Regions from separate parts of the Homo sapiens genome. Here region 2 is linked to region 1. The links come from fine-mapping of genetic effects on gene expression. A gene starts in region 1. The other region holds a variant in brackets. All regions are shown on one strand. Distances are from middle to middle.

Evidence for each region. PIP is the estimated chance that this variant, and not a neighbour inherited with it, causes the effect.
Region 2: its variant is fine-mapped to the expression of HECA in whole blood (INTERVAL, PIP 0.98). The same link has a PIP of 0.9 or more in monocytes.

What each region holds. Positions count from the first base shown.
Region 1 is chr6:139,130,703-139,142,080 of GRCh38, forward strand. HECA (hdc homolog, cell cycle regulator) reads left to right here and starts at 4,378. Exons shown (of 4, transcript NM_016217.3): 1 at 4,378-4,965. The coding sequence starts at 4,695. RefSeq lists enhancers at 2,842-2,891, 4,170-4,464, 5,330-5,449 and silencers at 4,170-4,359, 4,470-4,549, 4,950-5,219.
Region 2 is chr6:139,333,434-139,344,811 of GRCh38, forward strand. It overlaps the pseudogene LOC100129844. Among named protein-coding and RNA genes, the nearest start is that of CITED2, 36 kb to the right of the region's middle. The variant C/T (reference allele first, on the strand shown) is at 4,615.

The sequences.
Region 1 (11,378 bases):
GGCACAGAGGTTCGAGTAAGCAGCAAGTTCAGGGATCACTGAAAAAAATTCTGACCCTTTTTTATGACTGCTTTTATAGATTATGAAAATAATGTAAAAGTCACAACTAAAGGATGGAAAAGAGATTTTAAGGGCAAATATTTGAGAAAAATATTAATATTGGTAATCGGGAACAGCCTAAAGGGAGAGTAGATCTATGGAATTTATTAATCAATATTATTATTTGCTTTAATATTCCATTTTTTCAAAGTTTTTATAATCACAATTGTCATTATTCCTCAAAGAAAACCTGTGGCCATAGGAAAGGCTATTTGCAGAAGAAAAAACTGATGCATGAAGACAATGCATTGCTCCAGGTGTATTTATTTGAAGTGACTTTTTAGCAGATCAGGCTTTAGTACCTTTTAGCTTATGTTTCAATTGTGGACATATTCTTGTGTGCATTACTGTGTTATCTGCAGAATTCCTTCTGAGTTCCAATATGATTTTTTCGATCAAGGTGTATTTGGATATTTGGCTTCTTACCTATGTTCTAAGTTTTCAATTATCCTTAACACATATATTTTGTACTTTAAACCTAACCAAACTTAGCTGACCCCAAGAGCTCAGAAGACAGCCACAAAATGTCAAATGAACAAAATTAGGGCACTGAAACAATGACTGCTTATTCCAGTTCAGCCTGAAGATTAGCCCACCCCTTTCTTAAGGGTGTAAATTGTTTGCTTTTGATGCCCTTGATTTGTTGCTGTGCTTTATTTTGTTTTCGCAGAGAAGTGAGCAATAGGGTGGGTGAGGTTTGGGGGAAGGAAACCTAGGATAGAGGTATAATTTTTTTGAAGTTTATATCAGAGCATGAGTTGATCAGGGAAATTGAAGAATGAGAAGGCAAGTGTAGATGTACAGAACAGAGTGGCTTCCTCAGTTCCTTGGAGTTCTTTATACTTCTGGAAGTTTCTAAGGGGAATGTTCCATTGTACCATCTGCCACCTTTTGTCTTTTGGTATGCTGTCTCTCTCTCTCACCTTCAGAAATGGTGGGAAAACGGCTAGGACAGCAGGATAGAACATAGGAAATGGAGTCCTTTAACTTCACCTACATTTTGTTCCTAACATCTTGATTTTAGTATATTGTCTTTGTAGCAATAAAATCGGAACTATTGCCTCTGCACCAAATTTGACTAAGGCTAAAAATAGATTAGCGAGGTTGAGCATGGAAGAAGTGGCAAGCTTCTCCTTCCTCCTTTTCATTTTGTTTCAGTTTGAATAGAAGGAGGTAGCTCACACAATTAACCAGAACAGCAACTGGCTGGATGTCTGGGTGCTTTGAGCCAATTAGGATATTTTTGTGGAAAGTTTCCAATTCTTAATTCTCAGTTATGTAGAGGTGGGAGGCAGCTGGTGTGAATGTCTGTCTGCAGGGTACATGCATACTAACTCTGATCCAATATGGCATGACAGCAATGTGCTTATTCAAGAAAATAATTATCTCAATTTTCTTGTACTCTAACCTAAAATGTCTTCGCCTTCACGACTTAAAAAAACAAAACAAAAAACCAGAAAAAAAAAAAGAAACGCCAAAGCTAACATCACCCACATATTTTGAGACCTCTAGTGGTATCAATAATGAAATTAAGCTAAGTCTGAATGGGCAACAGTAATTCATTATCTTCCTCCACGGACCCACTGCCCTCCCCGGGAAGTCTCCCTTTAATTAACTACCTTCATCATTTCTTCTGATTTTCAGAATTTCTTGACTTCACTCTCTCTTTCACCCCTCATTTTTGGTGTCCAAGTGGCCACCAAAGCAATATCCCAGTGTGTAAGCTGCTATGGTGAGGAAGGTGCAGGGAGTATCTGGGGACAAGTCTAGTTTTGGGTTGTCACAGATTTCCTAGAGAATTGATGATTTAGCTGAGACTTTAAGGTTCAGAATAATGTAGCCAGAAGAAGAGTGCTTTAGGTATCTTCCATGCAACAAATTTTTATTGAATACTTACTGTGGGTCAAGGTTTATGCCAGACTCTGTAGCGTTAGAAAGCTAGGCACAATCCCTGCTCTCTTAGCACCTAGGGGATTTCAAGGTTGGGGAGAAATAGACATGAAAATATAAGCACAAAATATCTATCTATCAATAGGGCCTTCTAAAGGGTCACTATCCTCTAATACATATTAGGGAATTTAAAATTTCAACTTTTTTTTTCTACTAAAGAGTCCAACCAGCAATTTCCCCTGAGTATCCAGTGCTTGCTCCTTCTTGCCGTTCCAGGCTCTGTTATGCATTCTGCTATGGTTGCCCAGAGCTCGCAATCAGAATCTCCTCTCCATTACCTGAATGTGGGGGAGAGTATTGTTTCTTGTACTTTCCTGTCTATCTGTATAGTTCACAATGAGGCAGAGAACAGAGTCTGGAGGCAGGGAACCTAAGGGCGTTTCACCCCACTTCCTAAACTAAATTGAAAGGAAAACCCTAACTTTCCACACCTGAGTAACAAAAGGACCAGAAGCTGCTCCCTTTGCAAACCCTCACCTTTTCTGCGTGGCAGATGGGAAACTGGCTGTCAGCAACCAATGAGACTGATTGCGGGTGGAGTCTTTGCATAGAAGTGCAACTTTGTAACTTCACCTTAGCCTCTGATTGGTTGCTTTTTAAACAGAAGTGTGCAAAAAGTGTGATTGCACAGAAGTGTGACCTTTGTTAACTCCACTTCAGCCTCTGATTGGTTGACGAAAGCAACCAATCAGACTAATTGTGCGTCACCACTTCATTTACATGAGAAACCTCCAGGGGGTATTTGGACCTCAGAAGATTCTGCATCCGGAACCTTGAGCCACCGCTGGGGCCGCTTCCATACTGTGGAGTGTACTTTCATTCTCAATAAATCCCTGCTTTCTTCTTTCCTTGCTTTGCTGGGCGTTTGGTCCAATTGTTTGTTCAAAATGCCAAGAACTTGGACGACTTGCAGTCAAGACCCTCTAATGGTAACAACAACACCGTGACAGAGCTTTTACTAAAGGGCTGAATTAAAGATTACACTATAAAAGGGGAACACTGTAAAGCTGTCAGCTAAACTAGTCTTTCCTCCACAGTTCGTGAGGAAGGAACCTAATTTATACATTCAACAAATTTATGCCAGCTGTTCTCTGATGTGCCCAAGGCAGATAAAATCTATCCATGGAGGTTTCATTTCAGTGAGAGGGAGATATACAAGAAATAAGTAAACACCTACATTGCCAACATAATTAGAGATGGAGGAGGAAAATAACAGGGTGGAACTTCTGACAGCTCTCCTGGGAAGGTCTCTGTGGAAGTGATGTATTTGAGCTGAGACCTGAAGGAAGGGAAGGAGTTGGCCGAAAAGGTAGAATAGAATTGCAGAAAGAGATCAAGGGGAGCTCTTCCCAGGGGTCCCCTGCCCTCATATTGCCTGTCTTCACTGGTGTCACCTAATCTCCTACTGCTCATAACCTGGCTACCTATCTTTCACTATCTTTCAGGACAACTCAGCCCTATGCATAGGGATGGGTTCCCCCCAAGCAGGGACTGCTTCAGAGTCCAGGCAACATCTAGTTACATCCCTGGATGATGGGTCTTGTTTGAGTGAATTGTTTTCACCACCAGACTGTGAAGGCTTCCCATTCAGGACCCTGGTGTTCATCCCCATTGTCTGGGAACTCTACCCTGTTTCTTTCTTTCTTTTCTTTTTTTTTTTTTTTTTTTGAGACAGAGTCTCGCTCTGTTGCTCAAGCTGGAGTGCAGTGGCGCGATCTCGGATCCCAGGTTCAAGTGATTCTCCTGCCTCAGCTTCCCGAGTTTCTGGGACTACAGGCGCACGCCACCACGCCCAGCTAATTTTTTTTTGTATTTTTAGTAGAGACAGGGTTTCACCACGTTGGCCAGGATGGTCTCGATCTCTTGACCTCGTGATACACCCGCCTCGGCCTCCCAAAGTGCTGGGATTACAGGCATAAGCCACCGCGCCCGGTCCCCTGTTTCTTTAATTACTGTTACTGAAAGGCATAGCCTTTGAATGAGTTATTAATCCAAAATCTTTTGTTTTCCATTCTTGCTCTAGTCACAGCTTATTTTTCCAGACCATACTGTTCTAAGCCTCAATTACATTAAGGCCAGGAGGCCACCGAAGAACTCCACATGCCACTGCACTGGCGGGTGGAGCAAGTCAAGCAGGGCAGCTCATGAACGCCCGGGAGTCCAGGAGGCCCGGGTGGGGACGCCTGGATGACGTCACTCGAGGTGGGCAGGCCCCGCGCGGGGCGTGACGTCACGCGGGCGGTCCCGTCAGCCGTGAGGTCACCTGGTGGGCGCGGCCAGGCCGAATCCCCAGTGTCGTCACGGGAGGGGGCGGGCCCAGAGCGTGTCAGTGCAGCCGAATCAAAACAAGCCGGAGACCCGCCTTTTCCCTCCGGCTCGGGAGCGTCTCGCTTGCGCCCCGGGCCCGCGGCGCCCGCGCGGCTGCGAGCCTCGGGTGGCCGCGTGCCGGCTCCAGGAAGCCGGAGAGGGCGCGGCGGCCAGGATGGCGCGGCACGGGCCGTGCGGCTAGACGGGAGCCGAGGGAACCGCCGGCTCGCGCCCTCCGTTCTTTCCCGGAGCCGGCTTCACGCAGGGCCGGGAACGGCCGTGCCTCTGGGATCCGCCTTCGCTGACGCCGGGCACCTACCTGGACGCGAGCGAGCGAGATGCCCAACCCCAAAAACAGCAAAGGCGGCCGCAAAAACAAGCGCGCCAACAGCAGCGGCGACGAGCAGGAAAATGGAGCCGGGGCCCTGGCAGCGGCGGGCGCGGCGGGAGCGGCGGCCGGGGGGGCCCTGGCGGCGGCGGCCGGTTGCGGGGCGGCGGCGGCGGGCGCGCCGGGCGCCGGAGGCGCGGCGGGCGCCGGAGGCGCGGGGACTGGCGCCGCGAACGCTGCGGCCGCCGCGGGGGCTGCGGCCGCGGGCGATGCCAAAAACGGTAAGACGGGGCTGGCGGGGCGAGCGCCAACTTCCTCCCCGACGGGGACGGCGCGGTGGCGGGGCCCTGGGTGGCGCGGGCGGTGCGTGGACAATGCGAGAGTCAGGAAGTGCTCACCCCGCCCCTCCGCCCCGCCGCGGCTGCCCCTTCGCGGTCCCCACGCCTGGCGGCGGGGACAGATCTGCGGCCCCTGCCCGGTGTCCGCGCGGGGGGCAGCCCGCGCCCCACACTCTGAGGGGCTCCCGGCTGCGGCAGCGCTGCCCTCGGGCCCAGCCTGCTGCCCGCGCTGGCACTGCCCCGCCGTGTGTGCCGGGCCGAAGGGAGGAAGGAAGGGAGGAAAGAGCCGCCCAAGTTGAGAAGAATGATCCGATTGAAAACTTAGGCACCGGTTAATTCTTCCCGGTGCTCCAAGGCCACCCGTAACCCCCGGAATGAAGGAGAGAGAGCCTCAATTCTTAGCACACCCAGGCTTGCTGCGTCGATCGCCACAGGTGAAGAGGCCTCGAGACATTTAGGGCCTCTGTGTTTGCTCTTTAATTTTTTGGCTTGCTTGAGGAAGGAAGAGAATCTGAACTTGACTTCCGTTCTCAGCCCGGAGTTAAAAAAAAAAAAAAAAAAAGAAAAGAAAGAAAAGAAAAATCATTCTCTATGTCATTGTGCTTAACATTTTCAGAAGGAAGCCTCATAATCTTAGGTAGTGCCTGAATGTTCCTTTTGAGGGGACACTTAGGAACTGGCCCAGATGTGACAGGATTTCTGTTCTCATTACAGAGCCATGGTTTTCGTTATAAGGTGCTGGGCAAACACTTACTTATTTGGACAGTTCTTTGAATTCCTCTAGTCAGGCACTTTTTCCAGGAAGACAACGTAGGTATTTTAATGAAGGGAGATTTGAATTGTTATATCTGGCTTTTAATTTATAGCGTCAGCTTTTGAAGCCATTCTTTATGTAGATCAGGCACTTTTTTGTTTTGTTTTTTTTTTTTTAGACGGAGTTTGCAATTTCGCCCAGGCTGGAGCGTAGTGGCGCAATCTCGGCTCACTGCAACCACCGTCTTCCGGTCTGAAGCGATTCTCCTGCCTCAGCCTCCCGAGTAGCTGGGATTACAGGCGCCCGCCACCACGCCCGGCTAATTTTTGTTATTTTTAGTAGAGACAGGGTTTCACCATATTGGTCAGGCTGGTCTCGAACTCCTGACCTCGTGATCCGCCCGTCTCGGCCTCCCAAAGTGCTGAGATTACAGGCGTGAGTCACCACGCCCAGCCAGATCAGGCACTTTTTAAACAGGGCACCTGCTCTTACAAGCAGCGTACAGTGCTCTGAACATAGGCGGCTGAATGTCGCCTGTTAGAACTGTAGGCCCCGTTGGCTGTGTCTCTGCAATATTGAAATAGGAAGATTTATTTATTTATTTTCAGAAACAAACTTACCCCGTTTGTGAATGTTTCAGAATACTAGTTTTGGGTAGCCTGTGTTCTTCATGTTCTTTTGTTTTTCTCCTGGCTTTAACCTTCATTTTGGTATTGATGTGGCAGAGAGAAAGGTGCTCAGACTCTGGGTAGGACAGACTCCTAGCTCAGCCATTTAGAGCTTCATCATCTTGGAAAGGTCAGTCTTCCAGAGCCTCAATTTCCTCATGTGTAAACTTGAAAAAAAATTACCCTGGCTCCCTCCTAGTGTTATTGAGAGGCTCAGAGTGCCCCTTCCCTATTATGCTCCCAGTTCTTGTTATTTTAAAGGTTACATATATAATGAGCTTAAAGTTTCTCACAAAGAGTGCATGAACAATGATGACAGCTTTCGTTTATTCATTTAAAAAAGATTACCTGCAGTGTTGCAAGTACCGTGTTCAATACTAAGGGATCCAGCGGTAATCAAGACGAGACATCCCGGTCCTCAGGGAGCTTGCATTCCTGTTCTGGTGGTGGTTTTGGTTTGCTCTGCCCACCCCCCTACCAGCTCCTTTTTTTTTTTTTTTTTGGCCTATGTGGAAGCTTCAAGTTCACAGTTTCCTTTTTTTTCTTGCTCCAAAAGATTAGTCCAATTTAAGGTGGCATGAGGAAATTTTTTTCTTAGGCTACTTGTACCTCCTAGTTTGTACATAACAAACTGGTTAAGGGGCCCCTATTATTATTCTCTGAAGTGGCAGACTCAAGTATATTTAGCAGCACAGTGTATGTGAAGAGCTGTTTCTGATTAGGAGCTTATTTTATTAAGTGAAAGGCGGGGAGAAAAAGGAATGGGCCAACATTCCCATAGTCAGGGTCAGAGGATGTAACTTATATTAGAGGAGTGAGCCAAATTTTATGATGCCTGATTCTTGTTTCTGAAGTGATGTGAAGTCTTCGTGAATGATTCACCTTAATGTGAGGAACCCCCCCTCAGTTCTGCAGTTGATGATAACTGAACTTGGATGCTGAGGACTCCTGGGTGCAAAATCAAATGCTTTTTTCTTTTCTTTTCTTTCTTTCTTTGTTTTTTTCTTTGTTATTTAAAGCTATAGTTTATAAGGTAGGGGTTTGGGAGAGGCGTTACTGGTGAATTTTTAAAGAGGAAGGGGCAAGAGATGCGTAAATTCTCAAAATCAACTAAGGACCAATATTTGGATTTTTAATGTTAAAGTTATTATCGGTAGTAGTTTTAAGTGTATTTCAATTTTTTACTTAACTGTGACATTAGATTTTGTAATTACAGAAATTACAAATCAAGTAATTATTACAAGAAAGGAGGTACTTGATATTCTTTGAAACTTGTAAATAGTTTTTCACTGTTCAAGTCAGCTATCTACATCTGCAAACATGCAAACTTAATGACTTCGCTTAAAATTAATAGTGTTTATTTGTAGTTGTTTGGAGTTTATAGAATGGTTTTGTGTCTTGTAGCTCTTGGGCAGTGCGGCCACCAGAGCAGGGCAATATTAGCTTTTAGTTGTTCAGTTTGTCAAGTGGGCATAAATAAATACTTATTCTGTAAAGGAAGATTACTAGTTACGGAGAGCTTGGGGAAGCCGCGGTATAGTTGTGGTTGGAGAAGATGAACTGGCTGCAGTTGTGCATCTTGAGTAAGTTTAATATTAATTCTTAGGATATCATACCGCTAATAAGACATTTATTAGATACTAATTTTAAGATACTAGTTTATGAGGCTTATTTTTCAGGGATTGGTGTAAAAGACCACCCCATCTTTTTCCTACATAGTAATCTGTCTGCACATACCATTTGCATTTTCATTGCAGGTATACAAGATTACCAATGGTTATATTTAGAATCTAGTTATCAAAAGGTAGATACGTAGTTTCATTCTGGTTCCATTAGGCCTCTACATTTTTATATCAGGCCTAAAAATATTTGAAACCTTGATCATAGTATATCTAGTTTTCATTGGGCCTGGATCTTAAGTACTTTTATAAATTCCTGTTATTGGATGACCATGGTTCATCACTCCACTCATTCCTTACTGCCTCTAGAACCCGTGGGCAGCAGAGTCTGCCTTAATTCATGGAACTGTTTCTAGCAGATGGAGTTCGTTTGCATAGAGATTGGCTTTCCATTTGGTGGACCTAGATTCAAATCCTGGCTTCTCAAATTACTTGTCAAATGACCTTGGGCAAGTCATTTAACTTCTCTGAGCCTTGGTTTCTGCTTTGTAAAATGGATTGTAGTACCTACCCATACAGATGTAGTAAAATATCTGTATCTATCTATTAAATATATTTAAAATAAATAGATTACATACATTAGATAGATTAGAACAGTGTCTGACTTACAGTACCAGCTTACGAAGTATTAGCTGTTTGTCTTAGATCCTGGAAATAGCCTGAGCAGAGATACACGTGCTGGAGGTTACTGGAGAGTGCTCTTGGCATCATTCCTAGTGGAGGAGGGAAGGAAGCAGGATTGGGCAGAAGCAGGAGTTGAACTGTGATGCATCTGTAACAGAGACCCCAGTTGATCCTCTCTTGGGGGAGCTCTGGAGGTGGGATGGCCTTTCTGAGTTATCTCACCTTAAATAATAGGGGCAGGGCCTTCTACACACTCCCCCAACTCCCAGTTGACTGGTCATTTGGACTTGGGCTCCCCCCAGGAAGAGAGCATGACCTTGAGGGTGGCATCTCTTTACCTGGAAACCCTTTATGGAGAGGGACTCTGCTGAGAAGCTTCAGCTCTGAGTGAAAGGAGAGCCATTCTTATTCCCCTAGCATTATGGATGTCTTCATTTAGACCACCAGTACCATTCACATAAAACACAGGTGTGGGATAAATATTTCTCACTAACAACTAAATAGGCTTTGTGGAGGAGACTGGGAATTAACCACCATTATAACAGTGTTTCCATGGGAAAACGCATTCTGAATTCCATATATCTGTTGACAAGTAGATTTTTTTTGGAGTACCACCTGTTCCCTATGCACAGGATTTGTATTTTGCTGCATATTTAGGCCACTAAAGACACTTTTTATAACCGAGGTTTGTAGTATATTTTAAATAGTTTCTTTTTAGATGTTTACTTTAATTCCTACTACATTTAAATTACCTATATCCATCAGTAGGAAAATGAAAAATGTTTGCTTGCTGTTTATTTTCAAATCAAGGAATATCTGTTGAGGATCTAAGGTATATAGGTTACCATTATAATCTTAGAAAACATTTTCTTGCCTTATCTAGAAGTCAGTTTTTTGGGTCTCAAGAACTATTTGCCTTTGGATGTTGTCTTTTGAAATCCACCTTTTTAGTGGAGATTGGCAGAAAATATTGCCTCATGCATCAAAGATTCTTCCTGTACACTTCGTGTATTAAAGTGAAGAGCTCTTCTGTGCGCCGTTCATGGTGCTCTATGCGCAGTCTCGTCTTTCTCTCATTCTTTACTTGTTAGAGGATCTGTGATCTGTCCTTAAGTTCTAGAAACTAAACCTTCAATGTCAATTTTCCTGTAAGTCCAAGAATATATTTCATTCCATGGAGAATTGAAAACGGGAGATAAAACGGGAAAATCTCTTGCAGCTTAATCCTCCTATGAGTTTACTTCAGGCTTTTAGCTATGAATAATTTAAAGAACTTGAAGGTACCAGAAGAGATTCTTTACAGAAAAAAATCTGTCCTAACTGATTTTGATCAGCAACTCTTTGGCATTTTTGTTTTTTGAGATGGAGTCTCGCTCTGTCACCCAGGCTGGAGTGCAGTGGCACTATCTCGGCTCACTGCAAGCTCCACCTCCCAGGTTCACACTATTCTCCTACCTCAGCCTCCGGAGTAGCTGGGACTACAGGCACCCGCCACAATGCCCGGCTAATTTTTTGTATTTTTAGTAGAGACAGGGTTTCTCCGTGTTAGCCAGGATGGTCTTGATCTCCTGACATCGAGATCCGCCCACCTCGGCCTCCCAAAGTGCTGAGATTACAGGCGTGAGCCAGCGCGCCCGGCCCTCTTTGGCATTTTTAAGGGCTTTATTTATTTGAAAATATTGTGTTATTTTATTATTTTACCAGTAATGAAATAAGCATCTTAGAAAAGAAGCTTTCTTTGCCTTTCTGGTTAAACACATAATTCCACCACTTAAGAGATCAACATTATTAATATTTTGATATATGTTCTTGCAGCCTTAAATTTTTTTTCTCACAAAACTTTTAAAAGTACATATATAGTTTCTGCAAAAAGAAGATCATATATTTTATAATCTGATTTTTACACATAGAATAGTTTGTGGACATTTTAGCAGAGCAGTAAATATACAGGTGCATCATCATATGTCTGCACCTTGGAAATTTGATCATTCCACTATTGTTTACCTTTAGGTTCTTATTTATATATTTCTGGGCATTTGTCCACTTAATTACTTCATGTGTTAATTTGTTTCTGCTGCCACAACAAAATACCTCAGTGTGGATAATTTATAAACAATAGAAATTTATTTCTCACAGTTCTAGAAGCTGGGAAGTCCAAGGTCACAGCCAGCAGATTCTGTAGTTGGTGAGAATCACAGCATCCTCACATGGCAGAGAAGGTGAAAGGGATGAACTTGTTCCTTCAAGCACTTTTATGAGGGATCTAATCCCGTTCATGAGAGCCCTCATGGCCTAAACACCTTCTTTTTTTTTTTTTTTTTTGAGACAGAGTCTCACTATGTCACCAGGCTAGAGTGTAGTGGCTTGATCTCAGCTCACTGCATCCTCCACCTCCCAGGTTCAAGCGATTCTCCTGCCTCAGCCTCCCTAGTAGCTGGGACTACAGGCACATGCCACCATGCCCAGCTAATTTTTTTTTTTTTTTTTTTTTTTTGGACATGGAGTGTCGCTCTGTCGCCCAGGCTGGAGTGCAGTGGTGTGATCTCGTCTCACTGCAAGCTCCACCTCCTGGGTTCACGCCATTCTCCTGCCTCAGCCTCCCGAGTAGCTGGGACTACAGGCACCCGCCAC
Region 2 (11,378 bases), 200 kb after region 1:
TATAGGCGCCTGCCGCCACGCCCTCCTAATTTTTTGTATTTTTAGTAGAGATGGGGTTTCACTGTGTTAGCCAGGATGGTCTCGATCTGCTGACCTCATGATCCGCCCGCTTTGGCCTCCCAAAGTGCTGGGATTATAGGCGTGAGCCACCATGCCCGGCCCTAATGGCTTTTTAAGAAGTGGAAGAGTAAGAACTTTGACTCTCTGTCATGTGAGGACCCAGGGAGAAGGCAGTTGACTACAAGCCAGGCAGTAGACCCTCACCAGACACTGAATCTATTGGCACCTTGATCTTGGATTTCCCAACCTCCAAAACTGTGTAAAGTAAATGTCTCTGATTTAAGTCATCCAATCTCTAGTTTATTATAGTACCACAAGCAGACTAATACAATTGTGTTCAGGAAATGAATAATTCAAAGAACTTGTCTTCATAGCCCAGATATGCTTTTGGTATATAAAGAGTTATTCTAGTAAAGGTCGTCAAGTGTTTCTATTGGAAGAACATTCAAATGTAAAATGTTTGGCCAGGTGTGGTGGCTCACACCTGTAATCCCAGCACTTTGGGAGGCCGAGGCTGGTGAATCACCTGAGGTCAGGAGTTCAAGACCAGACTGGCCAACATGGTGAAACCCCGTCTCTACTAAAAATAAAAAATTAGCTAATGTGGTGGCATGCGCCTATAGCCCCAGCTACTCAGGAGGCTGAGGAAGGAGAATTACTTGAACCCGGGAGGCTGAGGTTGCGGTGAGCCGAGATCACGCCACTGCACTCCAGCCTGGGCGACAGAGTGAGACTCCATCTCAAAAAAAAAAAAAGAAAATATTGTTTTTCAGTGTTCAATATATTTTCTCACATACCTGTCTAGCAGTGGTGTCATGCAACTCAATCTGTATCTTACGGACAACCACAAAGCATCTTGATTTGGAAATATATACACCACATATTTGTGTTGACAATATTATCCAATCATTTGGAAACATAATTTATGAGGAAACTAGAGGTCCTGCATTTCAGCCATTTTGTCAACGAAGTCTCTACCTCAAGTAGTTCACTAATGAGGAGAGAGATTTATTTCTCAGTATCAAGTTTATGACATGAACGTCTGTTTTACAGCAATATTTACCTGTTCTTTTTTTCATCTTTAATTCTTGGACTTCATATAAAAAGGACAAAGTAAATCACATAGTCAAATTGGCTGATTCCGCATAAGCTCAGAGAGAAGAGTTCTATTTCAGAAAAATAATTTAATTCTAAATCTGTGTCTGAAGAAATATCATCTGTAAACTTTAGCTGGAAAGTGTTCTAAGAATATAGAGATATTCCCCATGGTCTTGATTGTGTTCATCCTGAAAGATTCAATTTAATAAGAGAAAGGTTTGGGTCTTTTGAAAACAGTAAGAAAATCATTTATCAGAGTTTCTATTTTCTCTGGGCAATTTTCACCATTTCAGCATACCCAAGAGAGAAATGACGTATAATTTTGTTATGCTGAAGAATTTGGCAAGCCAGCTAATGGTCTTACTAAAAGTGAAGAAATCCCTTTGGTGACAGATGCAGGAAGTTATGTCTGAATCATTTGGAACCATTGTAGAGAAGCCTTTGTTCCAAAAGAGATGTGTGGGGATTTTCTTGGGAAGAAAAGGTGTCTGAATATTCTTAAACCTCGAACAGATTTATCAAACTTGCTGCTTCATTTAATCCTTTGCCAAATGGGCTCATCTTCCATCCAACAGACTTCTCCCTAGCCATCTTCATCTTTCAAAAAGTCACCCTTAAAACGCATCTTGTGTTTCTTTCACTGCTGTGATGATGAAATCTGTCTCAAAAGAAGCATGTCGGTGTTGACTTCATAATCTTAGAGGCTGTAACATACAGGGAAGGCTGTTACTTAGAAACATACTCTCAGAAAGGTTTTTTGGAAGTTTTTAGGGAGGGGGCGAAGAAGAACTAGGGACAGGTAGATGGTGAATAGAATAACCTGAAGCCATGAGTCAAGGTCAACAGCAACAATAAGTCAAAGCAAGATCACTGAACATTGGTGAAAATAAAAAGAAGTGGAATCAGACTACAGAGGAAAATGAGTAAATTTAGTATCCAGAACTACTCTTAATGGGAAGTCCTATTAGCTTGTCTCCCATCAGAGTTAGGTGAAGTAATAATCTCCAAAAGGTGGGGCTGTTACCTCTGCAGGCGTTTAGAACTGGTCTGAACAAATCACCTGCAAGCTTTTTTGTGGTGGAAGAATGCTGTAGAACGGAGCTGTGAAAGCAAGTATAATTTCTTTTCTGACTCCCTCTGACTTTCACTTAATCATGTACAGGCAGTTCAAAAATCCTGCTGCCTCTTTCTTGCCAATTTCAATACAAATTCTCTCTGGCCAGAAAACTGATCATTTGGTATATAACCTTTTTTTTTTTTTTTTGGTTGGTTCCTCAGTTTCTCCACAACATCACCTGACATTCTGCTACATAAATAGCTATAATTTTAAATAAAATGAGTCAAACGCTAGTGTCAGGCCTTTACAAAGGCTCTCTCACCCTTTAAGATCGCTATAATCCCTCTTTTACATAAAAGGCAATAATGTTCAGACTCTAAGCTAGTGAGTTGAAACGCAAACTCTGAACCATCTCATCAGAAAAAAAAAAGAGCATAGGTTTAGAGTCAAATGAACTCCTGTGTGAATTCTGGCTTAGCATGCCTATTTCTGTCCCAATCTATTCTATAATCTCCTTTATCCTTGTAGTGGAATTATTTTAAATTCTATCTTGAGACCCTTGTCTGGGAGCTTATATGATTCATTCCATCATTGCCCAAATGAGATAGACCAGGAGGCTGGATCCTCCTCTTAGTAGGGGTGGATGCTTTTTTAGTGGCTGTAAATGGATCAGTCCATGACTTAATTGTGCATGAAATAGAGATTTTTAAAAATTTTCTATAACCAAATTTAATTTCTGTCATAAATGCTAAATTTCTACCTGGTAATGACAAATTTAATTCTTCTAATTCAGGATAAACCTAGCCAAATTAGGATTTTTAAGACATTGTTTCAGGGTAAAATCATTCAATTTAGGCTTCTTCCCCCAAATTTCAATTAGCCCAAGTGGCATCTAACTTTAGGGAGGTGTTACGAATTAGGTAACCCCAAGTTATTTGCATTTCTTCTTTTCCTGAGAGTGGAAGTAGCAAGGTATAAAGTGTTATAATAATGGCTAGTAATTTGCAAAGAGGTAAGATGATCTTACAGGAGTAAACCAGCTTGCTGGAAATGAGTATTTTCAGTTAAGGGCCAAAATTGTGTAGCACGAGCTCCCAGAAAGCCCCTGGAATTGTGCCAGCAGACACGGCCATGAATTTGGCAGTGGCTGCTGTAGCCGTGAGGCAAGGTAGGCCTTTGCCACAGGATCAAAAGACAGACTGTAATAAGCTATGGATTTTTGGTGCTTTCCTTGTAATTAAAGCTATTAGAGAATCAGAATTTTATTTAGAAGCTTCTTTATTCCAATCAAAAAAGATAGTACATTCAACATTAGGACTTTACTGTCCTAATGAAGAGAAACTTCATTTGCTCTAAGAACACTGTAAGATGGACAATTTTGGAAACATATGGAATTCTCCCAAAGTGGCCAAATCATCATCGGTGAACTAGTGCCAGTTTGTGAGATGTGTGCAAGCATTTGGATAATAATAAAGAAGCAAGTGTCTGGACTGGCAGAAGTGCACACTTGAACTGAGATTACCCCTGGAGAAATGATCATGGTCAGTTGAATGTGTTGGTTCTGCATTTTGTGTCTTGAGCCACTAACCAGTGGCTGGCCACCCTTGACAAGAGACTTGATAATTTGTGGCCCTCAGCAGATAGAATTTTTGGATATTCTGTCTTTCATATTAACTGTCAGTTGTAAACACAGAACAGAGGAAAAATGGACCTTGTACGTTTTTTTGTTGGTGACTTGAAGTAAATTTCATTTACTGGGGAACATAAGCTTGACAAAATTTTTATTAACAGCTTTATTGAGGCCAAATTGACATACAATAAAATGCACATAATTAAACTATAAACCTTGAAAAGCTTTGACATTTGTATACACCCAGCATAATAATCAAGATAATGAAAATATGCATCATAAGTTTCCTCATGTCCGTTGGTAATACCCCCTTCTTCTCCCTGCTCCCCATACCTCTGAGTCCCCAAGCAACCACTGATCTGTTTTCTAACACTGTAGATTAGTTGGTGTTCTAGAATTTTACATACATGGAATATAGTGTGCATTCTGAGAAAAAATATATTTTTTTTCGCTCAGCATAATTTTGAGATTCTTCCATGTTTTGTGTGAGTCAATAGTTCACTTTTTGCATTGATTTGTATTCTGTTATATGGGCATACCAAAAATTGTTTATCCACTCACCTGAACATAAACATTGAAGCCTTCTTTCCCTAGGTTTCTGCTGTTATAAATAAAGCTGCTATAAATATTCATCTACAAGTTTGTGTGTATAGATACATACTTTGTTTTCCTTTAAGTAAATATCTAGGAGTGAAATTGCTGCGTCATATGGCAGGGATATAATTTCCTTTTTAAGAAACTGTCAGTTGCCCCATCGTGCAATGTGGTG[C/T]GGCAACCAAGCCAGGGCTGCTCCATGAAGAGGAAGCAAAGACGGCTTGCCAGGACAGTGATGGAGAAGAACAAAAAGGCAGGATCGCCTCAATAAAAGGAGGGTGGCTTTGCCAGTTTGTAATTTAAAATACTGAAGCACAGTCTTTGAAGCAACAAGGAAATGCACACTATGCCAAGGAAGATTACAACGAAGCTTATAACTATTAAACAAAAGCCACAGATATGTGCCCTAAAAATGCTAGCTATCATAGTAATAGAGCAGCTACATTGATGATACTTGGAAGGTTCTGCGAAGCCCATGGAGATACTTTCACAGTGAAATTGGATGATGGTTTCTTCTGGGGACATCTACGAGAGGGCAAGTGCCACCTCTCTCCAGGGAATGCCATGGCAGCACATTGCAGTTTTCAGAGAGCCCTAGAACTGGATCATAACAATGCTCACTCACAACAGGAGTTCACAAATGCTAATGCAGTCAAGGAATAGGAGAAAGTCATAGAAACAAGTTTTGAGAAGTGGGCTTTTCAGAAGGTTGTTTTCTGCATGGACTATGCCCTAGAATTTGCCCCTGTCTGCCATCACTTCAATATCCCTCAAAGCAGAATGTTTAGCAATGCTGGGTCGTTATCCAGAAGCACAGTCTGTGGCCAGTGACATTTTATGAACGGATTCCACCAATGTGGATGCTCTGTATGTACGCGGACCTTGCCTTTATTATGAAGATTGTACTGAGTAGGCAGTTGTTCAGTTTTTTGTACAGGCTCTCAGAGTGGTTCCTGACCATGAGAAGGCCTGCCTTGCGTGCAGAAATGCCAGAGCACTTAACGCAAAGAAAGAAGACTGGAATAAAGCGTTTAGGGAAGGAAATTACAAACTAGCTGATGAACTGTACGCAGAACCCCCGGGGTAGACCCCGACAACATAAAAGCAATTGCTAAACTCTACTGTAACCGGGATATGGTTAATTCCGAGCTTGGGAAACTAGATGATGCAATAGACAGCTGCACAAATGCAGTGAAGCTCATGACACTTACATAAAAGCCTACTTGAGAAGAGCTCAGTGTTTCTTGGACACAGAACAGTATGAAGAAACAGTGCGAGGCTATGAAAAAAGTATATCAGATGGAGAAAACAAAAGAATACAAACAGCTCCTAAAAAATGCACAGCTGGAACTGAAGAAGAGTAAGAGGGATAATTACTACAAGGTTCTGGAAGTGACAAGAATGCCTCTGAGGACAAGATCAAGAAAGCTTATTGGAAACAGGCCTTGAAGTACCATCCACATCGTCATGATGGAGCCAGCGCTGGGGTTCAAAAGGAGGAGGAGAAGATCAAGGAAGTGGCGAGGTCTTTATCATCCTCTTTGATTCCAAGAAAACGATTCATTATCACAGTGGGCAGGACCTGGATAAGGAAGACATAAATTTGGGTGATTTTGATGCAAACAATATCTTCAAGGTATTCTTCCGCGGTCCTACGGGCTTCAGCTGTGAAGCATCTGGTCCAAGGATTTTCTTTCTTCGATTGGGCTCATGAAAGGCAACCATCCAGAATCCAGAAAATGCAGAGTCGCTCAGTTTAAATGTAATCAGCAGATCATTTCTATTAAGAGAGGAATATTTAAATCTCAAACCATAATTTGTCTGCCTCTCCTGTAGATCTATCAGTTTTTTGCTCAATGTATTTTATTATTAGGTGCATAAATGTTTAGATTTGTTTATGACCTTTTATCATTATGAAATAAACTTGAAAAATCCCATGTAATATTGTTGGCTGTGAAATCTATCATGTCTGGTAGTAATATAGTCACTACAACTTTCTTATAGTTAAGGTTAGCTAGATTATCTTTTTCTGTCTTTTAACATCTAACGTGTGTGTGTGTGTGTGTGTGTGTGTGTGTGTGTGTGTGTAAATGAATAACACCAAAAACAGTTACTTTGAGAAAATCAGTGAAATTGGTCAATCTCTGGCTAGACTGATCAAGAAGAAAGAAAATATATATGGAGAGAGAGTACATTTCTTATATGCAGCATATAGTTTGGTCTTCTGTTTTTTTCTTTTCTTTTCTTTTCTTTTTTTTTTTGAGACGAAGTTTCACTCTTGTTGTCCAGGCTGGAGTGCAATGGCGCGATCTCAGCTCACCACAACCTCCACCTCCTGGGTTCAAGTAATTCTCCTGCCTCAGCCTCCCAAGTAGCTGGGATTACAGGCATGTGCCACCATGCCCAGCTAATTTTGTATTTTCAGTAGAGACGGGGTTTGGTCAGGCCGGCCTCGAACTCCTGACCTCAGGTGATCCGCCAGCCTGGACCTCCCAAAGTGCTGGGATTACAGGCGTGAGCTGCCGCACCCGGCCCTGTGTTTCTTTTCTGTTTGACAATCTCTGACTTTTAATTGAGATGTTTTGACAAAGTTATATTTAATGTGATAATTGATAGATTCAAGTCTGTCATCTTGCCATTTGTTTTCTGTTTGACCCATCTCTTCTTTTTCTTCCCTTTTCCTCATGTCTTTGGTTGAAGAACTTCCTTTGATATTTCTTTTTTTTTTTTTTTTTTTTTTTTTTTTTTTTTTTTGTGGTGAGATGGAGTCTCACTCTGTTGCCAGGCTGGAGTGCAGTGGCGTGATCTCAGCTAACTGCAATCTCCGACTCCCGTGTTCAAGCGATTCTCCTGCCTAAGCCTCCTGAGTAGCTGGGATTACAGGTGCGCACCACCAAGCCCAGCTAATTTTTGTGTTTTTAGTAGAGATGGGGTTTCACTATGTTGGCCAGGATAGTCTTGATTGCCTGACCTTGTGATCCACCCACCTTGGCCTCCCAAAGCACTGGGATTACGGGCATGAGCCACTACGCCCAGCCTGACATTTCTTATAGAGCAAGTCTGTTGCTGATAAATATTTTCAGCTTTTGTATATGTGAAAGAGTCTTTATTTCACCTTAGTTCTTGAAACATATTTTGCTTGGTATAAAATTCTAGTTTGACAGTTTAATAATTTTTTTGTCAGTACATTAAAGATGTTGTGTGTCACTGTCTTCTCACTTGCATTTTTTCTTATACGAGATCTGCTATAGTTCTTATCTTTGTTTCCCTAAATATATTGTGATGTTTTTCTCTGCTTTACAATGTTCTATCACTTGTTTAGGAAAATTTAATTATGATGTGCCTTAGTGTCGTTTTCTTCACATTTCTTGTGCTTTGGGTTCATTGGGCTTCTTGAATATGTAGATTTATGCTTTTCATTAAATTTGGAAAATTATTGGCCATTATTTCTTCCCATTTTTTTCTGTTACCCTCTCTCTTCTTTTTCAGTGACTTCTATTACATGTATATTAGGCATCTTGAAGTTTTCCACAGCACAGTGATACATGGTTTTTTAAATGTTTATTCTTTCTCTGTTTAATTTTAGATAATTTCTATTGCTATGTCTTCATATACACATATACACTAATCTTTTCTTCTGCAATTTCTAATCTATTTCTTAAACTCCTTATATATATATATATTTTTTTTCTTTGAGACGGAGTCTCGCTGTGTCGCCCAGGCTGGAGTGCAGTGGTGTGATCTCAGCTCACTACAAGCTCTGCCTCCTGGGTTCATGCCATTCTTCTGCCTCAGCCTCCCGAGTAGCTGGGACTACAGGTGCCCACCACCACACTCGGCTAATTTTTTGTATTTTTAGTGGAGACAAGGTTTCACCATGTTAGCCAGGATGGTCTAGATCTCCTGACCTCATGATCCACCTGCCTTGGCCTCCCAAAGTGCTGGGATTACAGGCTTAAGCCACCACACCTGACCCCTTAAATATATTTTTAGGCTGGGCGTGGTGGCTCACACCTGTAATCCCACCACTTTGGCAGGTTGAGGCAGGAGGATTGCCCAGGAGTTTGAGACCAGCCTGGGCAACAAAGTGAGACCCATCTCTACAATTTTTTTTTTTTTTTTTGAGACAGAGTCTTGTTCTGTTGCCCAGGCTGGAGTGCAATGGCACAATCTCGGCTCACTGCCACCTCTGCCTCCCTGGTTCAAGTGATTCTTCTGCCTCAGCCTCCTGCATAGCTGGTATTACAGGCGCTTGCCACCATGCCTGGCTAATTTTGTATTTTTGGTAGAGACAGGGTTTCACAATGTTGGCCAAGTTGGTCTTGAACTCCTGCCCTCAGTTGATCCACACACCTCAGCCTCCCAAAGTGCTGGGATTACAGGCATGAGCCACTGTGCCTGTAATTTTTTTTAATTAGCTGGGCATGGTGACATGTGACTGTGGTACCAGCTACATGGGAGGTTGAGGTGGGATGATTGTTTGAGCTTGGGAGGTTGAGGTTGCAGTGAGCCATGATTGTGCCACTATACTCCAGCCTGGGTGACAGAGTGAGATCTTGTCTCAAAAATATATATATTGTATATATAGTGGTAAAAGAATCTACATAAAATTTGCCATTTTATCCATTTTTATGTGTGCAGTACAATGGTGTTAAGTATAATCACATTATTGTGAAACATCTAATTTGCTTCTAATTTCATCCAATGAATTTTTCATCTCATTTCTAAAATTTTCATCACTAGAATTTGATTTAGGTCTCCTCTATATCTTTCATGTCTTTACTTAACTTTTGATCATTTGAAAAACAGTTACAATAAGTGTTTTAATGTCCTTGTCTGCTAATTCTAACATCTAGGTGGTTTTCAATTGACTGACTTTTCTCTTCATTAAGGGTGGTGTTTTGCTTCCTTCATGACTGGTGATCTTTTATTTTCTTTCTTTAAATTGTGTTTTATTAGATTTGAGATCCTGATGTATGGTAATCCTTGATTGAATGCTGGGCATTATAGATTTTTTCCTTGTTTGGTGCTGGATAGTTTCATATTCCTAAAAAGACTCTTGGTCTCTTCTTGGATGGTAGATTGGAGACATTGTCAGCATGCTTCTCCTCCTTGGAAAGACACAATAGTGTGTAGTGTTTCACACTGTGAATTTTTCTCCAAGAAGCAACACAGGAACTAAACAGGAAAACTGAAAGAAACCACAGGCCCTTTGAAAGAAGTGGTGGGCTGCAGCCTACACCATGAGTCAGGTGAAAAACTAAGTCTGCAGAATCTGAAGGGGGATAAACTGCCTCCAGGAAATACACTCCCACTGGGGAACCAGTTAATCCAGTCCATGGGGGAAGGCCTTAACCCTACTGAGTGCTGGCATTGATTTAGGGATTGATGTGGCATATAAAAGCAGGGGCAGCAGTGGGAAGAGCCTTGTGTGCATTCCCAGTCTTCAGCACAGACTAAGGGAAGTGATTTTTGGTCCTACCTCACAAGGGACTTCCCAGAAGTCTGCCAACTAACTCAAGTGGTGGTTGCACGTTGAGAGAAGCTCCTAGCTGAAATTCATGATATAATTTCAAGTGGGGACAGACTCCCTTGGCCAGAACTGGGGGCAAGTGGGAAGTGTGCTATAGCCACAAGTACAGGAGCTGGGACTGGGAGGAGCATGTCCTGAAAGCAGCTGTTGCTGTCTCCACAGGGAAGGCTTATGGGCTGGGGCAGTTTTGAGTTTTAAGTGCAGATTGCCTGGAACTTAGCTAGCTGATGCTAGTGTAACACTGCAAGTATGAGAGACCTGCCTTTCTTTTTTCTTTTCTTTTTTCTTTTTTTTTTTTTTGAGACGGGGTCTCACTCTTTCTCCCAGGATGGAGTGCAGTGGAGTGATCTTGGCTTACTATAACCTCCGCCTCCTGGGATCAAGCAATTCTCCTGCTTTAGCCTCCCAGGTACCTGGGATTACAGGCATGTGCCATCATGCCCGGCTAAGTTTTGTATTTTTTGTAGAGATGGGGTTTCACCATGTTGGCCAGGATGGTCTCAATCTCCTGACCTCGTGATCTGCCTGCCTCGGCCTCCCAAAGTGTTGAGATTACAGGCATGAGCACCGCGCCTGGCCTGCGACCTGCCACCTGCCTTTCTAAGCGTGTGGGAGCTGGGTAGGCTTACTGTTGCCTGCTATTCCCCACTCCCTGTGAAACTCTTCTGTGCAACACAGGCAGCTGCACTGCTTCCTGGAATATTACCGGAGCAGCCGGAGAACTGGCCCCCAGCTCCTACTGGGGTTATTTGCCCTGCATGTGGAGAGCCAGAGCATGGACCTGCCTGACCCAGCCCCCACCTGGCTTTGCTCCACCACTTGCCCTGGTAGCTTAACACAAGGGACAGAAACTTTTGGGAGCTCTATGGACCCACCCATTGCCTGAGATTCTAGAATACCTCCCCTGAGTTACATAAGGCAAGCACAAATCCCACCACTACTACCACAGCTGACACTCTTTTGCAAGCACCACCTCCTGGCTGGAGGCCAACTGACACAGTCCATTACAGCATTCTCAGGTAGAATAACACAGAGCCCAGGAAGGAGAAAACTTGTGTGTGACCTCAGCTATCACCATTGCATGCAGCACCCTGGCTAACCAGGAGGTTCTGAGTCCGTCCACGTGACCAGTCTATAGCTCTACCCCAACAGTCAGGCAGCCCTAGCACTTGTGAAGGGTCTTGGAGAAGCGAACTTCTTTTCCCCCTAGTCCATCACTGCAGGCACATCTGGGACTTCTCCTATGGGAGCTTAGCATGGGTGCACCTATAGACAGCCTTTCTAGAAAACTTCAGGGTGACTGCATCACTCCAGGAAGGGCACCCTCCAGGTTCAGGCTTGCATAAGTGGTAGAGTTACAATCCCTCTCTACTTAGAACATCAACATTCCTGCAGATGAAAAGAGG